4 separate regions of the Homo sapiens genome follow, and regions 2, 3 and 4 are each linked to region 1. Evidence: fine-mapped expression QTL. A gene starts in region 1. Each other region holds a variant in brackets. All regions are shown on one strand. Distances are between the middles of the regions. Region 1 holds the start of DCHS1 (dachsous cadherin-related 1). Region 2 holds the start of MRPL17 (mitochondrial ribosomal protein L17). Region 3 overlaps DNHD1 (dynein heavy chain domain 1). Region 4 overlaps APBB1 (amyloid beta precursor protein binding family B member 1).

What was found. PIP is the estimated chance that this variant, and not a neighbour inherited with it, causes the effect.
Region 2: its variant is fine-mapped to the expression of DCHS1 in whole blood (TOPMed, PIP above 0.99). The same link has a PIP of 0.9 or more in blood mononuclear cells.
Region 3: its variant is fine-mapped to the expression of DCHS1 in whole blood (INTERVAL, PIP above 0.99).
Region 4: its variant is fine-mapped to the expression of DCHS1 in whole blood (TOPMed, PIP 0.93).

The regions. Positions count from the first base shown.
Region 1 is chr11:6,652,796-6,660,404 of GRCh38, reverse strand. DCHS1 (dachsous cadherin-related 1) reads left to right here and starts at 4,596. Exons shown (of 21, transcript NM_003737.4): 1 at 4,596-4,842.
Region 2 is chr11:6,680,861-6,685,860 of GRCh38, reverse strand. It overlaps MRPL17 (mitochondrial ribosomal protein L17), which reads left to right and starts at 2,521. Exons shown (of 3, transcript NM_022061.4): 1 at 2,521-2,738; 2 at 3,046-3,114; 3 at 3,459-5,000. The coding sequence starts at 2,565. The coding sequence ends at 3,743. It also overlaps the pseudogene RPL21P94. RefSeq lists enhancers at 2,361-2,800, 2,217-2,979. The variant A/C (reference allele first, on the strand shown) is at 2,482.
Region 3 is chr11:6,510,927-6,518,535 of GRCh38, reverse strand. DNHD1 (dynein heavy chain domain 1) reads right to left here. Exons shown (of 43, transcript NM_144666.3): 7 at 7,107-7,263. Among named protein-coding and RNA genes, the nearest start is that of DNHD1, 17 kb to the right of the region's middle. The variant AAGGAG/G (reference allele first, on the strand shown) is at 4,061.
Region 4 is chr11:6,399,705-6,407,313 of GRCh38, reverse strand. APBB1 (amyloid beta precursor protein binding family B member 1) reads left to right here. Exons shown (of 15, transcript NM_001164.5): 3 at 3,492-3,667; 4 at 3,770-3,826; 5 at 3,910-3,995; 6 at 4,106-4,169; 7 at 4,589-4,738; 8 at 5,105-5,232; 9 at 5,332-5,337; 10 at 5,626-5,740; 11 at 5,885-5,969; 12 at 6,242-6,325. Among named protein-coding and RNA genes, the nearest start is that of SMPD1, 13 kb to the right of the region's middle. RefSeq lists a silencer at 1,701-1,995. The variant T/C (reference allele first, on the strand shown) is at 3,174.

The DNA of each region.
Region 1 (7,609 bases):
TTTTAGAGACGGGGTTTCACCATGTTGGCCCAGGCTGGTCTCAAACTCCTGAGCTCATGATCTGCCCACTTTGGCCTCCCAAAGTGCTGGGATTGCAGGCGTGAGCCACCGCACTGGCCCAGATACTACTTTCATTTAAGTCTTACCTTGTTGCCTGCTTCTTCTCAATCTCTTTTATGACTCTTCTTTTTTTTGCCCATGTCTTAAAGGCTGCCTAGATGCTCTTCTCACTTCATGCTCTCTGTGGGTGGCCACATCCATTCTCATGATTCCACTTACCACCTGCAAAATAACTGCTTTGAAATATCTACCCTCAGCTCAACTCTCTTCTGAGTTCCAAATTTTATACTCAATCACCTATTAGACATATTTATTTGGATATCTCACATACATCTTCGACTCTTATATCCAAAACTCAACTCACCATCTTACCTTTTCCCCACAAACCTGCTTCTCTATTGCTTCCCCAGCTTCCTAAGTAGCATCACTAATGTACGACCCAAGAACATGGAAGCCATCTTAGAATCCTCCCATGCTACACCCTTTACTTCTAGTAGTTTTATCCCTGTAATTTCTCTCTTATCTTACTCCTCTTTTCTAATCCTACTATCACTACCTTAATTTAGACCCTCATTATAAGCTGGGGAATAGCCAAAATTATGTTGATGACACGTAACCTGTCCATTTCATTTATCTTATTAAATAAACCCTTCAATGGCTCCTCAGAGCCTGGACCATTTGCATGACATATATTGTCCATGATTTGGCTCCATTTACCTTTCCTGTTTTTGCTTCCCACACTAGCCCATATGCTCAACACTCCAGCCAAGCCAGTTTGTGCAGGACCACCACCACTGAAGCCTGGATGCCACCCTTCATGGCCAGAGCTATTTTCTTTCATGCTCTTGTGATCTTGAACATGTCAGTTTATTCTGCCTGAAAGTCCTTTCTCTAACTTTTCCCTCTGCTATGCTTCTAATCCTTCAAATCCAGTTCCATTGTCATCTCTGTGACACTATTTGCTGATGTCCCAGCCCTGGTCTGGATTAGGAAGCCCCCTATATCCACAACCCCATGCTCTCCTCTATTGTACCTTCTGTTGTCAGTTGAGAGGTCTGTCTTCACAGCTTACCATGAGTTCCTTAGTCATGTCTTAATTTTTGTATCTTAACTATAAAGTTGCACATAGCAGGCACCTAAATGTATCTTCAATAAATGAAGGAAGCAAGAAAATAAATGAATTTGGATTCTTCTATTTGAAAAACTTCCTGACCCCCTAAAACTCCTATCCCTTACGCCAGTTATAGGTCTCTCTCCTCCCCTGTAGTTAGGCCTCCTTAAAGAATAAGCTCTACTCCAAGTCTTCAGTTCCTCACCTTCCACTCACTCCTTAGTTACTGAGTGCTAATTAGCCTTCATCCTTACCACTCCACCTACCACATTGTCCCCAAGGTCACCAGCCTGCCCCCTAGGCCCCAGCCAAATCCAATGGATACTTTTCAGTCCTTACCTCACTGGCCTCCTCTGTGTCATTCCAACCTAATGACCTCTCCTCACTTCATGGCTTCTTCTGTGGCCATTCCCTGGGCTTCAGTGGCACCACTCACCTCCCTTTCTTTCTCCTCCCTGTCTGGCCACATCCTCTCACTTTCCTTTGAGGGCTCCTCCTCTTCTCAACCTTTACATGTTGGAGCTTCTCAGCATCTGTCCTAGACCTTCTTTTCTTCCTAATGTACATGCTCTCCCTCTGTAATCTCATTCACTCCCTTACCTTCACTTACCATCTGTCACACTTACTATACAATACAGCTTACTGTATACAAAGCAACACAAATTGGGTTGTTGAGGACATTTCAGGTTAATGGGTCTTGCCCAAACAGTAATTTTTCATTTTTCCCAGTGAGAAGATCCAAAAAGCTTTTCAACCAACCTAGAAATGTAAACCTTTAAGGATGAGGATGAAACAATCAAAAGTGTACTTCTATGAGTTAATGGACTTTATTGGACATATATTTAAATTCATATATCATATAAAAATATATAACTGATAAATATTGTCTTTTCCATTCTCATAAATTATGAAGCAATTTTATGCATACTCAACACAAGCAGTGTCTTTCTCATCATTAGGATCACTTTTTCAGCCATCTTACATGTTTTCCCAGAACAGATGTCCTTCTCTTCAGTTTAAGCGAAGGGCTTGGGAGAGGACACAGCACAGTTTGAATTCACAGATGATGCAGTCCTTGGAAACTTTATCCTAAGTCACAAGTTTCCTTTGCATCACACTAGAACAGTTGGTTTTTTGCATGCACCCTGCCTGAGTATATTCATGACTTCAAAACATCACTTAATGTAATACTTTTTAAAAATTATATTTCTGTTAACTTTTTTTACTGAAATATAACATCTATATGGAAAAGGCCACAAGCCATCATAAATATTCAGCTCAATGAACTGTCAGAGTGAAACATCCCTCAGGTCCATATAACCACTCAGGTCAAGAAATAGAACATTTTCGGCAGCCCAGAAACCTCTTCCAAGTACTACTGTATTGCTTTTTAAAGCAATCTTTAAAAAGCATATTTTGAGACATCCAACACATGCGATTATGAGGTCATACTACCAGGAATAGTTACCAAAGCTGTGTTAAATTTCTTTGACTACAATACATCCAAAATAGCATTGTTGAGGACATTTCAGGTCAATGGGTCTTAGCCAAACAGTAAAAATAGTTAGCATTTATTGGACACTTACCATATAGTGCCAGGTATATAGTGCTTTATATATATTACATAATTTAATCCTTAGGCCCACTTTATAGATGAGAAAACTGAGGCAGAGACAAGTTAAGTAACTTTCCCAGTGCCACACAGCTTGTAAATAGGAGAGTCTGGACCCCGAGCCAGGGAGTCTGGCTCCAGAGTCCACAAGCTTAGTCACCATACCATACTGCCCTATCCAGTGGTTTGTTGTTCAAAATAAAGTAAATGAGAGCAAACCCTGTAATATGAGAGACCTTGTAAGGACTCAAATATAAGGTTACTCCCTCTTTCCTGAGGGATGATTTTGGAAAAACAAAAAAGCAAAAACTTCACCCTATATTCAAGCTTATACGGCATTTGCAGATGACTCCCAAATATTTATGTCCATCCCAGACCGCTCCTCTAAGTTGCAGACCTACCTACCCAACCAGCACTTCAAAGTCAGCAGCCCCAAGTCACAGTCATCATCTCCTCATACGAACCCCCTGCAGCCTCCTGCTGCTCCTTTTGTGGAGCACAGCCAGCCTCACCACCATCCATCCACCCAGCTGCCCAAGCGCCGTGGATATGATCAAGGACCCCAGTCTCTCCCTCACTCCTCTTCCAAAATCACACTCCCTTCTTCTTCAGCTGAAACTGTGTTCCTTCTCCACAGAAGTTCCTGATTTCTTTGTGCCATTTGTACACATCTCAAGTCCAGAAAACCTGTTTTTCTCACAGTCTACTCGCAGTCCTAAGGAAGAAGGACAGGAGTCAGAACTCTTCCCAGTTCCTTTAAGATTGCTTGCTCTTTGTCTCTGTCTGATTTCCCCTCTCCCCATATTCTCTCCCAAGTTGGTTTTTTGAGCCCCTTCCCACTTCCCTGCCCGGTTTCCTCCTCACTTAATTTTTCTAGGGAGTATATCGTGAGTGGGACCACCATCCCCAAAGCTCTTCTTTCCAATATCTCCCGATCTCTACCCTCAAATTTGGGATAAAGAGAAAGTGGGGGAAAGGGAGCCTGGGGGTGAAGGAGAGAAAAGAGACAGAAATCATGGGATAATGAAAAGTGACTAACAGGGGAGAAGGCCGAGGTTACGATGGAAGAAGGGGAAGAGACAGCGGGTAGTGAAAAGGGCAGGGGTGAGAAAAGGGAATGAGGAGAAGGCGTGAGGAAAAGGGGATGATGAGGTGAGGCGAAAGACACAGGGAGAAGGGGATGGGGAGAAAGGTGGGGAGAAGAGACGGGGAGAAAGGGATAGGAAGAAAAGGATAAAAGGAGAGGTGGGGAAGGAGAATCTGATGTAAAGAGGCTGGAGAGAGATCAAGCAGAAGGGGTAAGGAGAAGAGAAAGGGGAGAAGAGCTGGGGAGAAAATGATGGAGATGGGGCGAGAAGAAGAGGATGGGAGAAAGGCAGAGGGGAATGGAGATGACGGTTGGGAAAAAGAAGGGGCGAGAGGGAGACCAGGGCACTGAGGGAGAAGAGGGGAATAGGGGATGGAAAGAAGATGGAAGAGGAGGAGGTGAGCAGCAGGGAGCGGCGAGAAGGGGAAGAGACGAGAGGGCGTAGAGAACCGAATGGGAGGAGAGGACGGGAGAAGTGACGGGGAGAAGGGAAGGGAACCGGGACGGGGGCGCGGCGCGGCGCTGGGGCCGGATCCGGAGCCGGGGCCTGGGGCCGGGAAGTGGAGGGGCGGAGGGAGGCCGGGCGGGCGCCGGGGGGAAGGGGGGGCGGCGGCGCGGAGCGCGGGTGGGGGCGGGGGCGGGGGCTCCGCGGGCGGAGGGGCGGGGGCTCGGGTTACCGCGCGGAGGGCGGGGGGAGGGGAGGGGAGGGGGCGCGGGGCCGCGGCAGCGGAGCTCGCATCCTCGGCGGGGCGGCTGTGCAGGAGGCGGCGCCCGGGCGTCAGCGGACGGACCGATCGACGGCCAAGGGCGCGCGGACCGACGGCGGCTGCCCGGAGGGGATCGCGGGCCTCGGAGACAGCGACTGCGGACGATGCGCGGCCTCAGGCCCCGCGCGAGCGGGCGCTGCCCGGGGGGCTGACCGCGGCCGGACGGCGCCCCAGCACCGGGCGAGGGAGCCCGCGTCGCGCGGAGGTCAGTGCCCGCGCCCGCCCGGCCCGTCTGGCCGCGCCCGCCCTGCCCGCCGGCCTCCCCTGGGCTGCGGCAGCGGCGGCGGAGCCGGGGGCTTTGTTCTGAGCCGGAGACAATGGGGGAGGGGGGGCCTGGGCCTGCGGGACCCGGGCGGGCGTGAACGTGAGCGTGGGGGCAGGGCCTGGGGGTCTTTGTGTGCGTGTGTCATCGAGTCGGGGAGGGTGGCGGCGGGAGCGTGCGCCGGGGGTGTGGGGTGCGACAGCGTTGTGTTCCAGTGCATCGTCGGAGTGTGTCAGTGCGTGTCACTGGGAGGTTGTGTGTCCCTGGGCGTCTCTCTGGCTGTGTGTGCATGTGCGTGTCACTCTGAGGGTGTGAGGGTCAGAATGACCGTGTGTCATGGTGAGCGAGTCCCTGTGAGGGTGTGTTGCCCGCTCTGTGGGAGCCCATGTGTCAGAATGTGGAGGATGGGTGTGTGACAGAGACCAACTGAGACAGAGACAAAGAAACTGAGTGGGGAGAAGTACAGAGAAGCAGAGGAGAGGCAGGCACAGCCTGAAGTGGATGGAGGGGGGGGTCACCCAGACGTGTTCTGAGTGGGAGATTGGAGCAACTGGGAGTTTGTGTCTGGGATACCCAGCTCAGAATCCCGTGCAGGGGACAGAGCAAGGTCACCGCAGGCGTGGGTCCCACGTGGAGGGGGTGGGGAGAGGGAGGTCTAGAAGCACAATGAACTCAGTGTGGCGGGCTGGGCCCACAGCCACAAGGTCATAGGCCAGAAAAATATTGTCGCTTATGTCAACTTCTCAAATACCCATAGGGACACAGTCATAGCCCTACTCAACCCACAAGAGGACACAGTCCCAGGGAACACACATCCTCAAGAGATACCCTCACAGCCATCATACACTTCCAGGAAGCCCACCCCCAGGAAGCACCCCCAGTCAGAACCAACACACACCTACAGCAGACTCTATCAAGCCAACACACACCTACGGAAAATGCTCTCATGACAACACACACCCACAGGAGAAATGCTGCAACCAACATACTCCCACCGGTTCATTGTCAAGGCCAACACATACCATGGAAGACATTGTTACTGCTAACACTCTCCAGAAACACTGTCACCAGCAACAAACAAGTAGACCAGCACCTCTCAGGAGACATTGTCACTGCAATCCACATCCATCAGAAGCACTGTCACAACTGTCACAGCACATCTTATTAGGTTTACTTCCTTGGAGCTGCCCATACATAGTGGGTGTCCTAGAAGCCTGTCACTAACAGGAGGCTGTGCCACAGTTGCCCTTACCACACAGCCACTTGTACAACCCCCAGGAGACAGTCATGGATGGCATGCACACCACAGGAAGACCTGTCCCAACTTCTGAATAAACTCTGCTTAACTTATCAAGCTCACACCTTCACCCCTTCTCATACGTAGATCTCCCAGGTATACCCTCTTGTTCCCTGAAAACTTCGAGATCTGGATAGTGTATCCTGCCATGGTTTCTCAGTGTCCTTCAACACCACAGCTTCACAGATTCTTGACCTCCTTAGCTCCTGTTACCTTCCTCCCTCCCAGGACCACTCTGTAGAACTATTCCACCTTTAAAATTCTAAACTCTTGCATTCCTCTCTCTACCCACAACCTCCTATATCCTTCCAGCTTTCAGATGTTCTCGCTCCCATTACACTCTTTGACCTCATAATGACCTCTTGCCCTTGACCTCTTTGTTTTCTCCTACTCTGTTCCTTTCTGACTTTGTGCTTTCTTTCCAGCTCATATGCTAAGGATCATCCCTTCAACCACTCCTTGGCCACTGTGTTTCCTTGTCTTCTATACTCATCCCTCAAATTATTGCCCCTAACTAGAATGATTTCTCAACCACACCAGGGGACGCTTCTATAAATTCATACTTCTAAAAAATTCAAACCTCAACTGGGCCCTTCATAAATAAATAGATGATTTTTTTTCTATTTTCTTCACACTCATTACCCCACATCCCTCACACCATTGTTTTCAGTAGATTAATTAATCAAAACGCTAATTCATTCATTTAACAAACACATACTAGGCACCTACTCTGCTAGGCATTGTGATGAGAGTTGGCAGCACAAGTGTGAACAAAATGGACATGGTCCTTATCCTCATGGAGCTTACAGGCTGTGGAGTGAGTGTTGTAACACAGCAGCACACAGCAGAGTAACCTAGGCCAGTGTAGGGAGGTCAGAAGAGTCTTTCTGGAGGAAGTGGCATTTAAACTTAAACTTGATGGAGTGGGTGGAGAATATGCCAAGCCAAGGGAGCAGCATGTAAAAGCCCACATGAAGGAAAATAGTGTGTGTGTGAGGGATAAAGCAGTTCAGTGAGCCTGACACTTACAGCATGAGGTGACGAGAGAGGGAGAGTCTGTGGGAGAGGTAAATGGAGGCTTAGACCATGCAGGGTCTAGGAGGCCACAGAAAGAAATTCATTTAACCCAAGAATAATGGAGAGTCACCAAATCATTGGAAGCTTGGAGCGATATGATCAGATTCATTTTAGAAATACCACTCTGACAGCCATGTGGAGACTGGAGAAAGAGCCTGAGAAGAAGGACAGTTGGCTGTTGCAGAAACTCTGGAGGGTATAACACTGGCCTGAACTGGAGTAGTGGCCGGAGAGAAGGAGAAAGTGGATGGTTTCAAGAGCTCTTTAGGCAGTGGGATCAGCAGGGCTCAGTGACAAAGCAGACATGGTGGGGTGAAGGAAAGGAAGGAATTAAGA
Region 2 (5,000 bases), 27 kb before region 1:
AAAGACCCTTGGACTGTAAAAAAAAATTGTTCCGTTAATATCAGCCCACAGAAATTGCAGAGAAAGCCAGTAGTAATGCTGCAAAAACAAAATGTAAGGAAATTGACATATAAAAAAGAATCAAATTTTGAAGACTACCAGAAGAGACAAGAGATGACGGTCTTGTATTGCCAGAAAAAGTCAAAAGGACAGTGTTTGATGCTACAATTGTTTTTACCAAGTGTAAGCATTTTCTAAGACAATGGATCAATGTTTCATTTCACCTAATTTTTGCTGAAGAAGAACCTCTTCACAAGTTTTTACCAATAGAAATTTATGATAAATTTTCTGGTGGGCCGGGCACAGTGGCTCACACCTGTAATCCCAGCACTTTGGGAGGCTGAGGCGGGCAGATCACCTGAGGTCAGGAGTTCGAGACCAGCCCGGCCAACATGGTGAAACCCCGTCTCTACTAAAAATACAAAAAAAATTAGCCAGGCATGGTGGTGGGCGCCTGTAATCCCAGTTACTTGTGAGGCTGAGGCATGAGAATCGCTTGAACCCAGGAGGTGGAGGTTGCAGTGAGCCGAGACCGCACCATTGCACTCCAGCCTGGGCAACAAGAAAGAAACTCCGTCTCAAAAAAATATATATATATCCTGGTGAAAACATCTTAGTGAAATTTTTCAACTGCAAAGACAATTGAAAACTACAAGAATTGCTCCCAAAGAAACAAAACATGAATGGTAATTGTAATTTCTGTAATTTATTGTAAATTTCTTTAATTGTGAAGTGTGATTTGTATAAATCTGTCAATGTATTTATATGTTCATGACTTTTCCTATTTGCATATTTGTTCCTTCATATTAAAGAAACTTTTCAAAATTAAAATTAGCAAAGAAGTGTTCTTTGGTCACCTATAAGCTGACAAAGTGACAAATCTATACGTCTACTGAATATGTACATGTAAAGAGGAGTGAATTCATTTCCTAAGACTGCTGTAACAAACTATCACAAACTGTGGAACTTAAAACAACAGAAATTTATTGTTTTGTGGCTCTGGAGGCTAGAAGTAAGAAAGCGATGTGTTAGCAGCAGGGTCATGCTCTCTGACAGATCTGAAAAAGAATGCGTTTTATACCTTTCCCTTGGCTTCAGGTGTGCTCCAGCAATCCTTGGTGTTCATTCATTGATTTGCAACTGCTTGACTCCATAATCTCTGCTTTCAAGGTCACATGGCTTTCTGCCTGTATGTCTCTGTCTTTACCTGGTCAGCATCACCCTGTGTCCATCTCTCTCTCTTCATGCGCATTTTTTTTTTTTTTTTTTTTGAGATAGAGCCTCACTCTGTCGCCCAGTCTAGAGTGCAGTGCCCGATCTCAGCTCACTGCAACCTCCACCTCCCGGGTTCAAGCTATTCTCCTGCCTCAGCCTCCCGAGTAGCTAGAATTACAGGCATGAGCCACCACGCCCGGCTAATTTTTGTGTTTTTAGTAGAGACGGGGTTTCGCCATGTTGGCCAGGCTGGTCTCGAATTCCTGACCTCAGGTGATCCGCCCGCCTCGGCCTCCCAAAGTGCTGGAATTACAGGAGTGAGCCACCGTGCCCGGCCTGCATATATGTATGTACGTATATATGTGTCTATCTATCTAGCTAGCTAGACACTAGGCATTTTGGATTAGGCGCCCACCTATGCCTGCATGACTTCATCTTAACAAATGACATCTGCAATGACCCTATTTCCACATAAGGTCACATTCTGAGTTACTGCAGGTTAGGACTTAACATAGCTTTTTGGGGACGGGAAGAATCATGGGGAAGACACAATTCAACCCATAACAAGGAATAATTTTGACAGTCATTGCCAATTTGCAGATGTTAAGGCTCAAAAACAAACTATAATATTATTGTTCATTAACACATAAATGTGTAGGTATGTTTTTTCCCCTTAAAAAGACACACTGGTGTAATTAAAAACAATCTACTACTTTTCCCTTTAGTGCTGTAATTTTTTTAACTGGAGTGATTACTTCAATAAAAGAAAAATTTCACTATCTGCGTTTCTTTTCCGGGCATCGTTATTATCCATCTCACCATTACTACTGAAAATCACTGTGTTAAAAACAATGCGTACAGGTGTCAACCAGGCCAGCTGGCCACTGCTGGACCCGGTAGGGCCGTCAGCCCGCAGGACCCCGAACCCTCCGGGTGCCTTTCTCTTCAGACGCTCTCTTTCCCAGGAGTCTCCGCGGCGGAGCGCCCCATCGCCCTAAATGCCACTGGCTGACGCAGCCCCAAAAAAAACCCGATGGCCCGCTTATCCCACACTAGGGGGCGCCTGGTTCTTCGGCCGCCACAGAGCGCTCTGGATGCCTGAAGCCCGCCCAGCTCGCCGCCTCTGGAAAAGCTCAACACCGTTTCTCCGCCCTTCCCGAGATTGCCAACGAGGCAGGCTCTGATGCGCATGCGCAAACACGTTCACCACGCTCCGAGCTAAGGCGC[A/C]TGCGTTCCCTGAAATTGCCGCCACCGGCTCTACCTTCCAGTTTCCAGTTCCGGCCTCCAAGGGGCGGGCAGAAGTTGGAAACATGCGGCTGTCGGTCGCTGCAGCGATCTCCCATGGCCGCGTATTTCGCCGTATGGGCCTCGGTCCCGAGTCCCGCATCCATCTGTTGCGGAACTTGCTCACAGGGCTGGTGCGGCACGAACGCATCGAGGCACCATGGGCGCGTGTGGACGAAATGAGGGGCTACGCGGAGAAGGTGAGGAGCGCGGCCCTCTTGTCCACTCTGCGGGTCTGGTCTGAGGGGGCGGAGCCGGCTGCAAGTGGAAAGGGACCGGGACCAACCTGGTAAACCATTCCCCAAGTCTGAGTCCCCCAGAACCTTGGGCTGAACCCGCCCCTCCATCGCCTCTAATGGAAGACTGGTTAGGGCTGCGGAGTTAGGGGTGGCGTAGATTGGAGATGCTTGGCTAGTGGAAAGAATGGATTGCCTTCCGGCATTAGAGAAATTAGATTGGCACCTTGTTTTCTTGCTCGGTTGGATCCGTGATGTTATGTCCTCACAGCTCATCGACTATGGGAAGCTGGGAGACACTAACGAACGAGCCATGCGCATGGCTGACTTCTGGCTCACAGTGAGTGCGACCTATCTGCCTTCAAAATCCCACCCTTTGCTCCCTGGGGGTGGGGGTTGGAAAAAGGAGAACTATGCAGAATTAAACTTGGGTACTCACTTATGGGCCAGTGCTGCTAACTAAATTAGAAACTGTGTCTTAAGTTAGTTGAAGTCGATGTGAATATACCTCTGCACAACTGCCTATAAACGACCCCTTTGTGTAACACTGACTATGCCAGATTGGCGAGGGGAGGGGGAGGTCTTTCTATGTGTGGATGGACCTTACCTTTGGGAATGGTGTAAAGTTAAATGCCTCTGCAGTTTTGCCTGACTCTGCTGTCTCTTGGATAATTCTCCCTCTAGGAGAAGGATTTGATCCCAAAGCTGTTTCAAGTACTGGCCCCTCGGTACAAAGATCAAACTGGGGGCTACACAAGAATGCTGCAGATCCCAAATCGGAGTTTGGATCGGGCCAAGATGGCAGTGATCGAGTATAAAGGGAATTGCCTCCCACCCCTGCCTCTGCCTCGCAGAGACAGCCACCTTACACTCCTAAACCAGCTGCTGCAGGGTTTGCGGCAGGACCTCAGGCAAAGCCAGGAAGCAAGCAACCACAGCTCCCACACAGCTCAAACACCAGGGATTTAACTGGATCTGAAGAGTCTGCAGCCCTTAATCAGTACCCATGATCACAGGCCTTTGGAGCACTTTTACTCTCTGAGAAGAACTGGAGCTAGAGATGTAAAATGGACAGTCTTGATGGGGTTGAGAACCTTCTGGGGAGCCAGATGACCCTCTCTTTGCACAATAGATAAAAGTCTTTATATGAATATATATAAATTTATTTATTTTTTCCTTCCTGTGGGATTTCTGGAGAATGAGAATTATCCAAATGCTCAGTCTACCTGAGATAGTAAATTCATGGCTTATGCTTCTGGTCCTTAAATTTGGGTTATTTTTGGTTAGTGCAATTTTGTTTTTCTTAATGCCAGTTTACATGGGAATGCATCCTATAATTCCAAATGTTGCCAGAGGTGGTTGTGTTTTGACATCTGGTCTCCTAGAGATGAGTGCTTGGGATTTCTTAGAGAAAGATTACTTCCTGACAGGGGTAGGGGAGTGACAATCTGCAAGTGAAACTTCCTTAAACAATCTAGTACCCTGCGAACCTTCAGGGGATACTGCAATCAGTCCTCTGTTTTGAGGCAGGATCACACATTACCTTAATGTGTTCCCTTCAACCCCCTGAATGGGCCTGGGAGGAGAGGACCCAAGAACTCAGATGTTCCACCAGTTTGGCCAAAGGGGTGGAGACATTCAGCAGAGGATGTTGGGCTCCAGGATAAGCTCCTTCCTCTTGGTGAGGGGAAGGGGTAAGAAAGAGGGTCTATGCGAGAGAAGGATTAGGAAATTAAACCTCCTAGGAATTTCCTGGAAGTTTTTATTGTTGTCAAATCTGGCCTCTCTGGGAACCCAGAAAAGGGAAATCCGGCTTCAGAATGTGAGAAGCTGGGAGCCCCTTTCTTGGCACAGCCAGGCTGCCGTTCCCTTGGGTTCAGAGGCTTTAGTAGGGTAGTAGTTATGGAAGGACTTAGAAAGGAGCCATCAGTCTTGGTCCAAACACTTGATAGCAGTGCCTGATAATTGCCATATCCCCAGTAAAGTGGGTAGAAGAGATTTTATCTTAGGCTCTATCTTCTGAGTGTATTTGGCCCACTGAACCCATCCACTGTCTGAGATAATAAGTAAGAGTAAGGGTAAAGGGATCACTGGTGTAGCAGACATGGCTTCAGTGACAGAACGAACTATTCTGGTGCTAATTTAGCTGTAGCTGCCTTAGTCTGATACTCATCTACTCCCAACAGAGCTCTTTATCTCTTTTTCTCTACTATGGTTTGTTCTTCA
Region 3 (7,609 bases), 140 kb after region 1:
TTGTAAAAAGAATGTATAATCTCACATTGAAAGAGCCTACTGAGTGCCATTAGGATAAAACCATACCAACGACAACAATAATAATTGCTAATACCATAGAACGTAATCAGTATACATTTTTAAAGCACCAATACTAGGGGTGATAACAGCCAAATTATGTGAAAAAAATGTTTAGGATGGGCACAGTGGCTCATGCTTGTAATCCCAGCACTTTGGAAGACCAAGGAGGGTGGATCACTTAAGTCCAGAAGTTTGAGACCAGCCTGGGCAACATGGTGAAACCCGATCTCTGCAAAAAATACAAAAAATTAGCCAGGCGTGGCGGTATCAACTGCTGTAGTCCCAGCTACTCGGGAGGCTGAGGTGGGAGGATCACCTGAGCCCGGGAAGTTGAGGCTGCAGTGATCCCTGATCATGCCACTGCATGGGCAACAGAGTGAGATTCTGTCTCAAAAGTAATGATAACAATAAAAAACTTGGAATTCTATACCTAGCCAGAATATCATTAAAGTTTGAGGATAAATAAAAACATTTTTAGATATACAAAGACTCAGAAAATTTTCCATCCACAGATTCTCCCTTAAAACAATTAGGAATAGTATTAATATATTCCATGCAGAGGAAAATGAATCCAAGAGGATAAAGTATTCTACAAAAGATTTGATGGGCAAAGAAATTTGTGAGACATATTGTTAATTTTAAGTAGTGCTATGGCCTGTGTGTTTGTGTCCCTCCAAAATTCATATTTTGAAATCTGAACCCATAAGGTGACGGTATTATGAGGTGGAGTCTTTGGGGAGGTGATTAGATCATGAGGTCTCCAGTCTCAGGAATAGGATTAGTGCCCTTAAAAAAAAAAAAAAAAAAAAAAAAAAAAAAAAAAGAAGTCCTAGATCATACAGTATTTGTCTTTCCTTGTCTGGCTTATTTCACTTAGCATAATGTCCCCAGGTTCATACGTGTTGTCACTAATGGCATTATTTCCTTCTTTTTGTGACTGAATAATATTTCATTGTATATATGTATTAATATCACAATTTCTTTAATCATTCATCCATTGATGGACACATCGATGTTTCTATATCTTGGCTATTGTGAATAATCCTGCAATAAAAATGGGGGTATAGATATCTCTTTGAGATACTGATTTCATTTCCTTTGGGTATATACACAGAAGTGGGATTGCTGGATCATATGACAGTTCTATTCAAAGGGTTCAAACTTTTAGTTATAAGATGAACAAGTTCTGGGAATCTAATGTACAGCCTGTGTGGTGATGGATGTGTTAATTAATTTGACTGTGGTAATCATTACACAATGTATACATCTATCAAGTCATCACATTGTACACCTTGAATATATTCCATTTTTATTTGTCAATTTTATTTTTAAAAGGCCCCAGAGAGCTGGCTAGTCCCTTCTGTGGTGAGAAGGTGCCACCTATGAGGACTGAGCCCTTGCCAGAGTCTGAATCTGTCATCACCTTGATGTTGGACTTCCTAGCTTCCAAGAATAAATGTTTGTTGTTTGTAAGCCACCCAGATTATGGTATTTTGTTATAGAGGCCTGAGTGGACTAAGACAAAGGAGTAGGTTATAAAACAAGAATGTTCATAACAATCTTGAAGAAGATTCCAGGAGATACCAATATAAGAGTAATGGGAAGAATAGAGGGAGGAAGAGAGAAGGGAAAGGAAAGTATGATAATGCTAAGGTTCTTATTCTGCTTGGGAGAACGATATGGTTAAAAATTCATACTTGTCATTCATTCACTCAACAAAAATTACTGAGCACCTACTAAATGGCATACCCTACAGTAAGCACTAGAGATATATTAGTGAATGAGTGCTCAAGTCATTGCCCCTCCAGGAGGAGGGAGAGAGACAGCAAACATAATAAATACATAATTTATGGTGTACATAAAAAGGTGGTTAGTACTGGTGGGGCGAGGTGGCTAACACTTGTAATCCCAGCACTTTGGGAGGCTGAGGTGGGCGGATCACGTGAGGTCAGGGGTTTGAGACCAGCCTGGCCAATGAGGCGAAACCCTATGTCTACTAAAAATACAAAAATTAGCCAGGCGTGGTGGTGGGCACCTGTAATCCTAGCTACTCGGGAGGCTGAGGTAGGAGAATCACTTGAACCCTGGAGGCAGAGGTTGCAGTGAGCCAACCAAGATTGCGCCACTACACTCCAGCCTAGGCGACAAGAATGAAACTCCATCTCAAAAAAAAAAAAAAAAAGTGATTAGAGTACTATGACAAAACAAAAGAGAGTGAAAACATGTATTTTAAAATGAGTTTAAAATATGATTTTAAAATACATGTTGCAAAAACTGAAAGAACAGCAAGCAGAAATGAACAAATCTATAGTTGTAGGTAGGAAGGGATATTTAACATATACCTCTCAGAAACTGAAAGACAATGGAGGTTAAAAAATTATTGTGTCTTGGCTGGGTGTGGTGGCTCATGCCTATAATCCCAGCACTTTGGGAGGGCGAGGTGGGAGGATCACTTGAGCTTGGAGTTCGAGACCAGCCTGGACAACATGGTAAAACCCTGCCTCTATAAAAGAAATACAAACATTAGCCAGGTACGGTGGCCCATGTCTGTAGTCCCAGTTACTCAAGAGGCTGAGGTGAGAGGATGGCTTGAGCCCAAGGGGGTGGAGGTTGCAGTAAGCCAAAATCATGCCACTGCACTCCAGCCTGGGTGACAGAGTGAGTCCCTGACTCAAAAAAAAAAAAAAAAAAAAAAATGTGTCTATAGAATATTTGAATAAAACAGTGAATGAGCTTGGCCTAATACATATTCTTTTAGGTTGAGTTCCCCAGAAGCAGACCCTGAGACAGGGATTGGGAGAAATGTGATTTATTGAAGGAATGATCTTCAGGGAAACAAGAGCCTCTACAGGAGTAAAAAAAAAAGCAGAAAAGAGAAGGGGAAAGTACCCAGCAAGATCTCAGCTAAATTCTATTTTTGGTCTCATCTGGAGTGGGGAAGGAGGCTTGGAATGTTCCAATCGTATTACAGAGTTGTCATGCCTTGAAGCAAGTAAGGAAAACACAAAGGCTGAGGAACTGTTCCATATAAGAGAGACTAAACAGAAGTGAGCACTAAATTCAATACATAATTCTGGTTTGGATCCTGAAGAACGAAAAAATATAGTAATAAAGGACATTATTAGAACAATTGCCAAATTTTGAATAAAGATTGGAGATTAGATAACAGAGTTGTATCAGAGTGAAATTTCCTAATCTTTGATCATTGTACTATAGTTATAAAATGAAATGTCCTCATTCACAGAAAAAACATACTGACATATACAGGAGTTGCTATGATTTGAATGATTTGAATGTGTCTCCCAAAAGTTAATGTGTTGGAAACTTAATTGCCATAGTAACAGTTTTAAGAGATGGGGTCTTTAAGAGGGCTCAACCCACATGAAGGGATCAATGAGCTAAGAGGGCTTAACTCACATGAAGGGATCAATGTTCTGATCATGGGAGTGGGTTAGTTATCATGGGAATGGATTCCTGATAAAAAGGATGAGTTTTGCCTGATTTCCTCTCTCCTCTCTCTGTCTCATATTCATGTCTCATCAGTATGTGATACCCTCCACCATGGGATGAGACTCTCGCCAGATGCTCTTGGACTTCCCAGCCTCCAGAACCATGAACCAAATAAACTTTTATTCTTTATAAATTACCCAGTCTTTGGTATTCTATTATAGCAACAGAAAACAAACTAAGACAGGGGTAAGGGGGCTGATGCCTTCAATTGACTCTCAAATTATTTAGAAAATAATGTATACATGTTTATAAAAAAAGAGCATAAATGATAAAGGAAATGGGAAAAATAACAATCTATATAAAGGGTATGTGAGAGTTTATCTTACTATCTTTACAATTCTAATAAGTTTGAAATTATATCAAAATACAAAATCACAGAAGGAAGGAAGGAAGAGAGGGAGGGAGGGAGGAAGAGAGGGAGGGAGAGAAAAAGGGAGGAAGGGAGGAAAGAAGGGAGGGAAGGAGGGAGAAAGGAAAGGAAAGGAAAGGA[AAGGAG/G]GGAGAGGAGAGAGAGAGGGAGGGAAAAGAAAAAAAATAAGTGTTGGTGAGAATGAAAGGCAACTGAGGCCAGGTGCAGTGGCTCACACCTGTAATCCTAGCACTTTGGGAAGCCAAGGCAGATGAATCACTTGAGATCAGGAGTTCAAGACCAGCCTGGCCAAGATGGTGAAACCCTGTCTCCACTAAAAATATAAAAATTAGCTGGGTGTTGTGGCTCACACCTGTAATCCCAGTTACTTGGGAGGCTGATGCAGGAGAATCACTTGAACACAGGAGGTGGAGGTTGCAGTGAGCTGAGATCACACCACTGCACTCCAGCCTGGGAGACACAGCCAGACTCACACCTGTAATCCCAGTACTTCGGGAGGCTGAGGCAGGTGGATCATGAGGTCAGGAGATTGAGACCATCCTGGCTAACATGATGAAACCCCGTCTCTACTAAAAATACAAAAAAAAATTAGTCGGGCGTGGTGGCAGGTGCCTGTAGTCCCAGCTACTTGGGAGGCTGAGGCAGGAGAATGGTGTGAACCCGGGAGGCAGAGCTTGCAGTGAGCCAAGATTGCACCATTGCATTCCAGCCTGGGCGACAGAATGAGACTCCGTCTCAAAAAAAAAAAAGAATGAAAGGCAGCTGGAAATCAGCATCACTGATGGAAACGTAAACTGGTACAACCACTCTGGAAAACTGTTTGGCAGTATAAAACATACATATATTCTATTCTAGCAGTTCCACTCCTGGCATATATATCCCAAAAAAATAAATGCTTATGTCCACCAAAAGACATGTACAAGAATGTTCACAGCAGTGTTATTCATAATAGTAAAAAACTGGAACCAACCCAAATGTCCACAATAGAAGAATGAATATATAAATTGTGGTCATTCATACAGTGAAATACTACGTAGCTATACAAAAAGAGTAAACCACTGCTACCTAGAACATTACGGATAAATCTCACAAACATAATGTTGAGTGAAAAAAGTCAGGCAAAGAGGAGCACACACTGTCCAATTCTAGTTACATGAAATTCAAAATGAGACAAAATTAACCTGTGGTGACACAGGTCAGAGTACTGGTTACCTCTGCGGGGGTATCAATGAAAGAGGCACCAGGGAGCTTGCTGGGGTGCTGGAAATGTTCTCTATCGTGATCCAGGTATACAAATATATAGCAATACAAATACAAATGCAAAAAATTCAACAACTTTACAGTTAAAATTTGTCTACTGTATATGAATTATACCTTAATATACAAAATTGACTACTGAATTTCAAAAAGTTATAACTATTTTTATAACATTAAAGGTGGGATTGAGGAACTGAGAGGTAGAGAAAGGCTGTGGAGCAGCTCACCCCCATCTCCTGCCTCATTCAGCTTGGTACAATGGCAGGTCCAGCATTTATTGTCTGGAAGCTAAAGGCCACTGCCTCCTTTTCACTCCTGCACCTTGGCTTTAGGATCTTGACATTGCTAATGCCTTTGGCCCCTTTCCTCTAAACCTCCTAAAGAGAGACTATGAATTTCCTTTTTTAGCCACTCTTCTAAAACATCCAAAGAAGATATCACTGAAGAGTCCAATCAGTGCAAAGTCGTAAAAATGCAGAGGCTCTTTGTGTAAAGACGTTCAATAATATCCCTAGGTTCCTGGGATACATCAGTGAACAAAACAAAGATCTCTACCCTTGTGGAGGTTACAACCTATCATGAGACATTAGTAAAAATAGTAAGTAACTTATATAGTATTTTTAAAGGTGAGAAGGAAGACAGAAAAAGGAAAACAGAGTAGGATAAAGAGGACAGGTAATTCTTAGAAGGGGAAGGAATTTGACTATTTAAAATTTTATGAAAATGTTTTATTACGGGTATTTTTAAATATTTAAGATTTCAACCAGAGCAATCAACAGAAGTTATTGGTTCCTCCTAGGAACAGAAATTCCTTGCAGTCGGCCAGGCGCGGTGGTTCACACCTGTAATCCCAGCACTTTGGGAGGCCGAGGTGGGCGGATCACAAGGTCAGGAGATCAAGACCATCCTGGCTAACACAGTGAAACCCCATCTCTACTAAAAATACAAAAAAAATTAGCCGGGCATGGTGGTGGGTGCCTGTAGTCCCAGCTACTTGGGAGGCTGAGGCAGGAGAATGGCGTGAACCCGGAAGGCAGAGCTTGCAGTGAGCCGAGATCCCGCCACTGCACTCCAGCCTGGGTGACAGAGCGAGACTCCGTCTCAAAAAAAAAAAAAAAAAAAAAAAAAAAGAAAGAAAAAGAAAAGAAATTCCTTGCAGTTGAGGCCATTTTTGAGACTTCAGAGTTCTGTCCTTTGTGATTAACCTCCTCTGATGGAGTTTAGAGCAACATGTAGAACCCAAAACCTGGCTCAAGCCAGGCAAGGTATGCCTCCTTCACATTAATTAGTTATTTTCACAAAATCTGAGTGGGCCTCCTCTCTCAGAACCGGACTATCTACACATGGTAATTAGCCACAGTCCTGTGTGAATATCCAGCCCCACCTGACAACAAACCATGATAATAGACCATGGGCAAGAGGTCAGTACACAGGAGGGCCTCCCAGAACTCTAGGCAGGGGTTGTGCATCACAGATGCAACATATGCATAATTAAGAAGGACTCCATCATTGCATCCTTCCACTAACTACAGTGGCCTTCCAAAGGTTCAAGATAGGTTCAAAAATAAGCTCAGCAGCATAAAAGACCAGGATTCCTGTTCTCAAATTCCCTAATTCCCAAAGGTCAGCATAAACAACAGACAAAATAGACATTGATACATTCCTTCTCCTCCCTGCTCCTAGGTCAAGATCAACCCTTAGGGAAAGGTCTAGTTCAAGCCTCTGCACACCTGTTATTGATTCATCCATCCTAGAGCAGAAACTGCTGTTGCTGGGCAGGAAAATGGCTCTGATTCAACTGTAGAGTCCAGGTCATACAGTGGATTCCAGGAGAAACTTAACTAAGAGGAGGCTGAAACTCTGGGGAGCTCAACTTGGGGAAGAGGTCCACAATAAACTAAGAGCCTCTTACCAGTCGAAGAATGGATGTGCAGAGGTTTAGGCAACGATGGAGCAGCCGTAGAGCCTTATGCTTCTCCTCGGCTAGAGCCGTCTGCAGGTCCAGCAGCTCATAGCACCGATCCAGTTCCTGGGGTAGCCAGGACACAGAGTGTAGCTCCTGCAGAAGCCTAGAATCAAGGACTAAGCTGGTCAGAGCTGGCATCCCAATCCTTCCTTGGATACCTTTGACCTCTTCTCAGCCTAGCTTACCTCAGACTGCACAAATATTTATAGAGATTGTAATATTACCAACAGTGACCAATAGTGACAGCTCCCTCTCGAGAGTTCTCTGAAAGAGTATAAGCCCATAAAGCTGCTTTCTCAGCTATACAAGCTGAGAAAAGGCTTGGGGTATGTGCAAGTGCTTATACCTAGTGATCTCTCTGCTAGAAGAGAGGGTCAAATAGATACCAAGGTCTGACTTAGAAGGAGAGACAGCAGAGGCTTCTTCCTTGGAATAGAGAAAGCTAAAGG
Region 4 (7,609 bases), 250 kb after region 1:
TTGCTGGGCAGTGACCTCAGCAAGGATGTTGGAGTGGCAAGAGGATTCTCAAGGATCATGCACTGGTGGAGACATTGTGAATTGAGGATAGAGGTGGGGGCCAGCCCAGGAAAGGGGCCAAGTCACTCTTTTACAACTGTGTTGCTATGACCATGAGGGCTGCAGAGAAGGTTTGTGCTCCTGCAGAAATGAGGCTAGAATTGAGCAAAAATTATATTCTCCTTCCTATTGTAGGATATTCATAGAGCTATGGATTGAATGCATAAATGCATGAATTCATGAATTAAATGAATGATGAATGAATAAACTTTACTACCTGTATTGAATTCATACTCTGCTCCAGGCCTTATCGTAAATGCTGGAAATGTATACTATGGGGCAAAGATGTTCTTACCTCCTGGCCTTCACAGCCTGGTGAGGAGACAAAGAAAGAAACAAGTGGTTATGATCAGTGCGATGAGCTCTCTGGGGCTGGGGAAGTACAGGAGGGGCCCCTGACCCTGCCTGTGAGAGTGGTGGGGGAGAGGGCAATGGGTCAGTTTTAAGAAGGGACCTGTATACTGATGTCTGAAGGAGAGGTAGGTGATAGCCAGGTGAAAATCGAGAGTAAGGGAGGTGGGCTGGGAGAGGACAAGGGGGCATGTCCCAAGCAAAGAGAGAGAAGGGGAGTGGCTGGAGGTAAGGCTGAGAGGCAGACAGGGGTTCATGACAGCACATAAAACCTGGGGAGGAATTTGGACTTTATCCTGAGGGCAGTGACAAAACAATTAAGAGGATTCCGTTGGAAAATTACTTGATTAGTTTAGCATCTCAGAAGAATCATTTGGGCTGTACTGTGCAGCTGAGATTGGAGGAGACCAGATAGGAAGAGAAAGACCAGTTATGATGTTTTTGCAATGATGCAGGTTAAAAAAAAAAAAGCTAGTAGCCTGGGCTATGTTAGTTATGTGGGGTGGAGAGAAGGGGAAAGCTTTAAGTCAATCACTGATTCCTGAGCAAGTGAGTACACCTGGCTTCACCACTAAGGCATTTGTGGATGAACGAATGAAGGAAGGAAGGAATGATACGTGAACATTTAATGTATTTTATATGTAAGTGTCGCATGAATCGATGCAGGAGTGAAGGTGTGCGTTCTGGAATAAATGCATGTGTGTGAAAGCAAAGGCCGGGGTGGGCTGCGCTTGGAGGGAGATGTGCCAAGCTCCAGAAGGGCCTCCCAGATGGCCAAGGGGGGAGAAACTGCCCTTCCAGGACAGATCGGAAGGATGAAGCTCTTTGAAGCAGGAAGGTACAGGCTGACAGGGATGGCAGATGGATTGGTGTGTGTGACTCAGTCAGGAGATGGTGAACTGGTCCCCAGATTCCAGAAGTGTCCAGCCAGCCCTCATGAAGCAGGCTGTGGCTGTGGAGGGCATGGAGGCCCTAGGGTGCTGTTCCTGGAAGGTTTTAGCAGGAGAGTCCTGAGGCAATGGAGGGTCTCTAGGGAACAGCAGGTATTCCCTGAGCCTCAGCTAAGTTTCAGGTGCCTATTGAAAACCTTATTCCATAGAGTGTGAGTTAGGGGGAAGTGGGGGTGAGGAGAGGCGGTGATGGCTGCCTAGAAGGTGGATGGGCAAGAGCCCCTCCTCTTTGGGTGTCTGTGGGCCCACGTCATTTGGAAGCTGAGGATGGTGAAGCACCCTGCCTGAATAACTCTCGTCAGGTGTGCAGCCACCTTGGCGTAACCACGCCCACTCCCAGCCCTGCTGTGTCTGGTTGCCCAGCAGCAGGGTCTTGGGACTGCCTGTCCCTTAGTACTGCCTCTTGGACCAGTCAGGATTCCTGGTTTCCCTGGTAACGGGAAGCACGTCAGCAGTCTGGGCGCTCCCAGCCGGTCCTGGTGCTGCGGTTGCCGAGGAGACGCTGCAGCCTAGCTGGGCCCTGGCAGGTGAGGGGTGGGGGGTGGTGCTGGGAAGCCCCAAGCCCAGCCTCAAGCTTGCTGGGGCTCAGGACCTCAAAGCCCACCCTTGGGTTCAAACTGCTGTGCAGGTCCTGGACAGGGGCGGGATCCCTGAAGGCCTTGAAACCACACCCTATTTATGCTGACAGCTATAGGCTCTGCAGGGCCCCAGGCAGCTGGGGTATTCCTTAGGGGCTGAGTCTCCTGGTATCCCTAAGACTGGGCTTGGCTTAGGCACTGAGGTAACCACTGGAGGGTGGGATGGAGATTCAGGATTGGGGGAGGGGAGCCAGGGCGAGGAAGAAGAGGTGTGAGCAGAAGGGGCTGGGGTCTCATGAACCTCCCTTTCTCCTCCCTTCCCCACCCCCCAAGGAGATTCCCTAGCATGGTGGTCCTGGCCCCTCCCTAGCAAGCTCCAAGCGGGGGAGGATCTTGCCTGGCAGACGCTCTGCCCTGGTGAGAAGGGGGCGGGATGAGCTTTTCTCTGCAGCCCAGCACCAGGCTGTGAGCCCAGCTGGCTGGGCTGGAGGGGCTGTGAGGAGGGAGGGTGGAGGCAGGAGGGGCCGGGAATGAGCGCCATGTTCTCCCAGGACTTTTTCCTGGCCATTATCCTGCAGGACAGCAGCGCAGGTGAGGGGCAGCATGAGGTTGGGCCTCATGTGGGGTGGGGCTGACAGGGAGAGAAGAGTTAGAGGACGCATGAGCGGGTTACAGGGTTGGAGTGGTGTGGCTCTGCCGGCAGACAAGGGTGTATGACACAGATGCGAGGTATGTGTGTATGTGCATGACATGTTTGCTTGCATCTGTGTGCAGCAAGGGTCAGGAAGTGAGCGTCTGTGGTGTCTGCACACATTTGGCAGGGTTTGACGTGTGCCGTGTGTCTGAGTGTGGGTCCGCCTGTGTGTGTGGTACCCACACGTGTGTTGGGGCCATTGTGGTGTGGTATCTGCACACCTGTGTGGCAGGGGCTCGTATGTTTAGCTGCATGCACACACACCTCTGTGGTGTCTGCATAAGTGTATGGCTAAAGTTTGTGTGTGTGTGCCCCTGCACATACATGTGCACCTGTGTGTGATACCTGCCATCTGTGCTGGCATTTTCTGTGTTGCATACCCTGGTGTTTGTGGCTGCACAGGTGTGTGGTAGGGCTTGTATGTGTTGTGTGTCTGTGTATACATGTACGTGTGCAGGAGCTAGAAAGTGTTCACCTTCGTGTTAACTGAGATAATAGATA[T/C]GTATGAAAGGAGGTTAATTGGGGTCACCCAACATTCATTGCTCCCTTCCTTCTTCCCTCCCTGCCTTCCTCCTTTCCACAGTGTGGCCACATTAGCCACCAACAGGGCCCAGGAGGAGACCTGAGCCATGTCCCCTACTGGTGGCCCCACATGTGGTGACTCCAGACTATAGGCTCTAGGCAGAAGCAGGAACTGTGTTGTGGTATAGCTCTTCCACCACCCCTTCTCAACCATGGGGTCTCAGAGGGGACCGGGCATAGGCACCAGCTGTCTGCTCTTTGGGTAGGCTGACCCTCACCAAGCCTCCCACCTGGCAGATTCCTTCTGGAACCCCAACGCCTTCGAGACGGATTCCGACCTGCCGGCTGGATGGATGAGGGTCCAGGACACCTCAGGGACCTATTACTGGCACATCCCAACAGGGACCACCCAGTGGGAACCCCCCGGCCGGGCCTCCCCCTCACAGGGGAGCAGCCCCCAAGAGGAGTCCCAGGTGAGGCTCACAGGCCTGTTGATTTTGGGCCAGGGGTGGAGGGAGTGTGTGCTGCTGGAGTAGGATAGGACACTCACTCACTACTCCCATCCCTCCTCCTAGCTCACCTGGACAGGTTTTGCTCATGGAGAAGGCTTTGAGGATGGAGAATTTTGGAAGGTGGGTAAGGGGACCTGCTTTACCACGGGATAGCTGGAGGAGGGGCATCATTTTGATACTGATTCCTCAATCCCCTTCCCAAGGATGAACCCAGTGATGAGGCCCCAATGGAGCTGGGACTGAAGGAACCTGAGGAGGGGACGTTGACCTTCCCAGCTCAGAGCCTCAGGTGAGCTGCCAGATGCAGTGAGCTGGCAGTGGGATGGATCTGTCTGGAAGGGGCCTTGGGACAGCTCCATTTATGGGAGCCCTGTGCCAAGTATTACCATCTGCCTTCAGCCCAGAGCCGTTGCCCCAAGAGGAGGAGAAGCTTCCCCCACGGAATACCAACCCAGGGATCAAGGTTTGTTCAAGACTGACACCCATTCTGAGTCTGGGGCCCTCTTATTTGTCAGACAGCCCCTAATGTTGTGCTCTGAGGGGTCTCAGCGCAGTTCCCCAGGTCCTGAGTTAGGAGTTCTTCCAGTCTCAGCACAGAGCCCTGTGTCTGAGCTGGAGGCACTTCAGTTTTTAAATCAACCAGCCCAACAGCCAGGTTGGGGGCCCTTGTAGTCTTAGTTCAGGTGCTTTTTTGTACTAGCTGGGGTCTCATCTGACATCTCCCTCACCCTAACCACATCCCCCTCTCCCTAACCACATCCTGTTTGGGGAGCTTCTCCGTCTTAGTTCAGAACACCCTGCCTCCTGCCACACTCTGTAGTCAGGAACTCTCCAGTTTTGACTCAGATCCTCTACCTCCTGCCCCTCTTCTGTGTCTGGCAGTGTTTCGCCGTGCGCTCCCTAGGCTGGGTAGAGATGACCGAGGAGGAGCTGGCCCCTGGACGCAGCAGTGTGGCAGTCAACAATTGCATCCGTCAGCTCTCTTACCACAAAAACAACCTGCATGACCCCATGTCTGGGGGCTGGGGGGAAGTAAGGACCTGAGCCGGGGGTAGGGGGTGGTACTGTGAGAGTGTGAAGGGAATTATGAGAGATGGGAGGTCTGACCTGCCCACAAGCAGGCTGGGGAAGGGGGATATTGGCCCATCCTAAGTGGCAGCCCTGTGGGATGGATGAGCGACCCCAGGCCAGGACCTTGGGAGATAGTCGCCTAACAACGGTGGAGTCAATGTGAGAGATGACACGTGACCTCCACTAGAGTGAGGCCTGCAGGGCGGGCGGTCTGACACCAAAGCAGGGGCCCCAGAGCTGTGGCTAACATCCCCTGAGCTGCAGGGGTCAGAGATCAGCCACCATCCTGGCTGGAGTCCCACTGAGTGCCTGCTTCTGGTCCTGCAGGGAAAGGATCTGCTACTGCAGCTGGAGGATGAGACACTAAAGCTAGTGGAGCCACAGAGCCAGGCACTGCTGCACGCCCAACCCATCATCAGCATCCGCGTGTGGGGCGTCGGGCGGGACAGTGGAAGGTGGGAATAGGGCTTGGGATTCGAGGGTGGGAGTTCATCCAGCATCAGAGTCCTCCTCTCTAACTCTGTTATTTGCCTCTCTTGTGCTGCTGGACCCAGAGAGAGGTACTATGCCTATTTTCCCCCTCCTACACCTGGACCAGATGCCTGGAAGCACCCAAGCTCCCCTCTTCTGCCCTGCCCCTTCCCACCCGCTATGCTCCACCATTACCCTCCACCTCAGCATGCTTGCCTGTCTACCCCTCCCCCCCAAGAAGGCAGCACCTATGGGGGACCAGCTGTGGGCAGAAGCCCTGGAGGAGCTGTGATGGGCAGGGAGGACGTGGGTGGGGTGGGGACCAGGCTCAGCACTGGATGGTACTGGGAGACACTGAGGTGCCCCTTCCCCAACAGGGACTTTGCCTACGTAGCTCGTGATAAGCTGACCCAGATGCTCAAGTGCCACGTGTTTCGCTGTGAGGCACCTGCCAAGAACATCGCCACCAGCCTGCATGAGATCTGCTCTAAGGCACGGCCCCCTCCACTCCCTGGACTAGTTGCCACCTTTGCTCTACAAGGGTGTGGGTGGGGTCACTGAGTGCTGTAGGGGGGCCCCAGGGCAATGAGGCTCTAATAGATTCTCCCTGGCTCCTCGCCTCCCTTCCTTCCTCAGATCATGGCCGAACGGCGTAATGCCCGCTGCTTGGTAAATGGACTCTCCCTGGACCACTCTAAACTTGTGGATGTCCCTTTCCAAGGTCAGTGTCAAAACCCCTCCAGGTCCAGCTCAGCTTTGTTGGCAAAGGTGGGTGACCCAAGGAAAGGCATGAGCTCCTGGACAGCGCTGATAGAAAAATGAACACATGAAGACTGAATACTCCAATACGTGGAGGGACTCCGGTTAAAGGGAGGCAGGGGACGAGATGAAAGTAGGGCCTCGGCTGGGCAAGTGTCCAGCTTATGCCCTGCTGGTGGGGCTGCGGGTGAGCAAGGTCTGCCACCATGATCAACCTTCTCTTCTTTCCCATAGTGGAATTCCCAGCGCCTAAGAATGAGTTGGTCCAGAAGTTCCAAGTCTATTACCTGGGGAATGTACCTGTTGCTAAACCTGTTGGTATGTGTGTCCTTCTATACCCAGGGGCTGCTACCTTGATCCTAAAACTCTGCCCCTACCCTCTGCCTTCCAATACTTCTTCTACCAGACCTTCCTCATGCTTGGTGTCTCCCTACCCTTTAAAATGCATCCCACCTCCCCATACTTCTGTCCTAGCTCTATTTCCTGTCCTGCCTATAGCAGCAGTCAGCACGCCTTCGCTGAGCATCAGCCACGTGAGTGGTGCTGAACCAGGCACAAAGGGAGACCCCACTCCTTCATCCCATGGAAAAGCTTTGGTGGGATTGGGAGGCTGATGTTAGATGACTGGAGGACACCAGACAGCAGCCTGTAGCTGGGTTTAGTGTTACAGCACCAGCTGTGGGCTGGGAGCATCTGGAGAAGGAAACAGTGAGCATAATTGTCACATACTTCATTGTTGCAAAGAATTTTTTTTTTTTTTTTTTTAAAGACAAGTCTCGCTCTGTCCGCCAGGCTGGAGTGCGGTGGCGTGATCTTAGCTCACTGCAACCTCCGCCTCCTGGGTTCAAGCAATTCTCCTGCCTTAGCCTCCTGAATAGCTGGGATTACAGGCTCCCGCCACCACGCCTGGTTAATTTTTGTATGTTTAGTGGAGACGGGGTTTCACTGTGTTGGCCAGGGCTGGTCTTGAACTCCTGACCTCAAGTGATCCACCTGCCTCGGCCTCTGAGAGTGCCGGGATTACAGGCGTGAGCCACTGTGCCTGGCCTGATCTGGTTAACTCTTATATTTCAGTGCTTTCCTAGTGTCTGCTATTTATTTGTTTATTCACTTAACAAATACCTTTGAAGCTTACCATGTGGCAGGCCCTGGACTAGGCACAGGGAGAACAGTGGCCACAGTCCCATTTTCCTAGAGGTTATAGAAGGTTATGGTAGAAAAAAACCAGGAATTAATAAAATAATCACACAAATAAATGTGTGAGTTATTCGTTGAGAGAAAGTAGCAAGATATAACAAAGGAATTTCATCTAGTCTGAGGTTGTAAAAGACTTCCCTGTGAAAGTGACATTTGAACTGAAATCCAAAAAATAAGTAGAAGTGAATGCGGTCAAGTGGAATGGAGGTGGGGGTGGGATGGGGGAAGATCAGGGTCTACAGTGGGAGGCACTTTGGCATTTCCAAGGTACTGAAAGAAGGCCAATGCAAGATGAGGCCGACAGCTGGGCAGTGGTCAGGCTGCCAGGTCAGGGACCTCAGGGGCTATGTTAATGATTTTTTCTTCATCCTAAGGGCAGCAAGGAGTTATTGAAGTCTCCGAGAG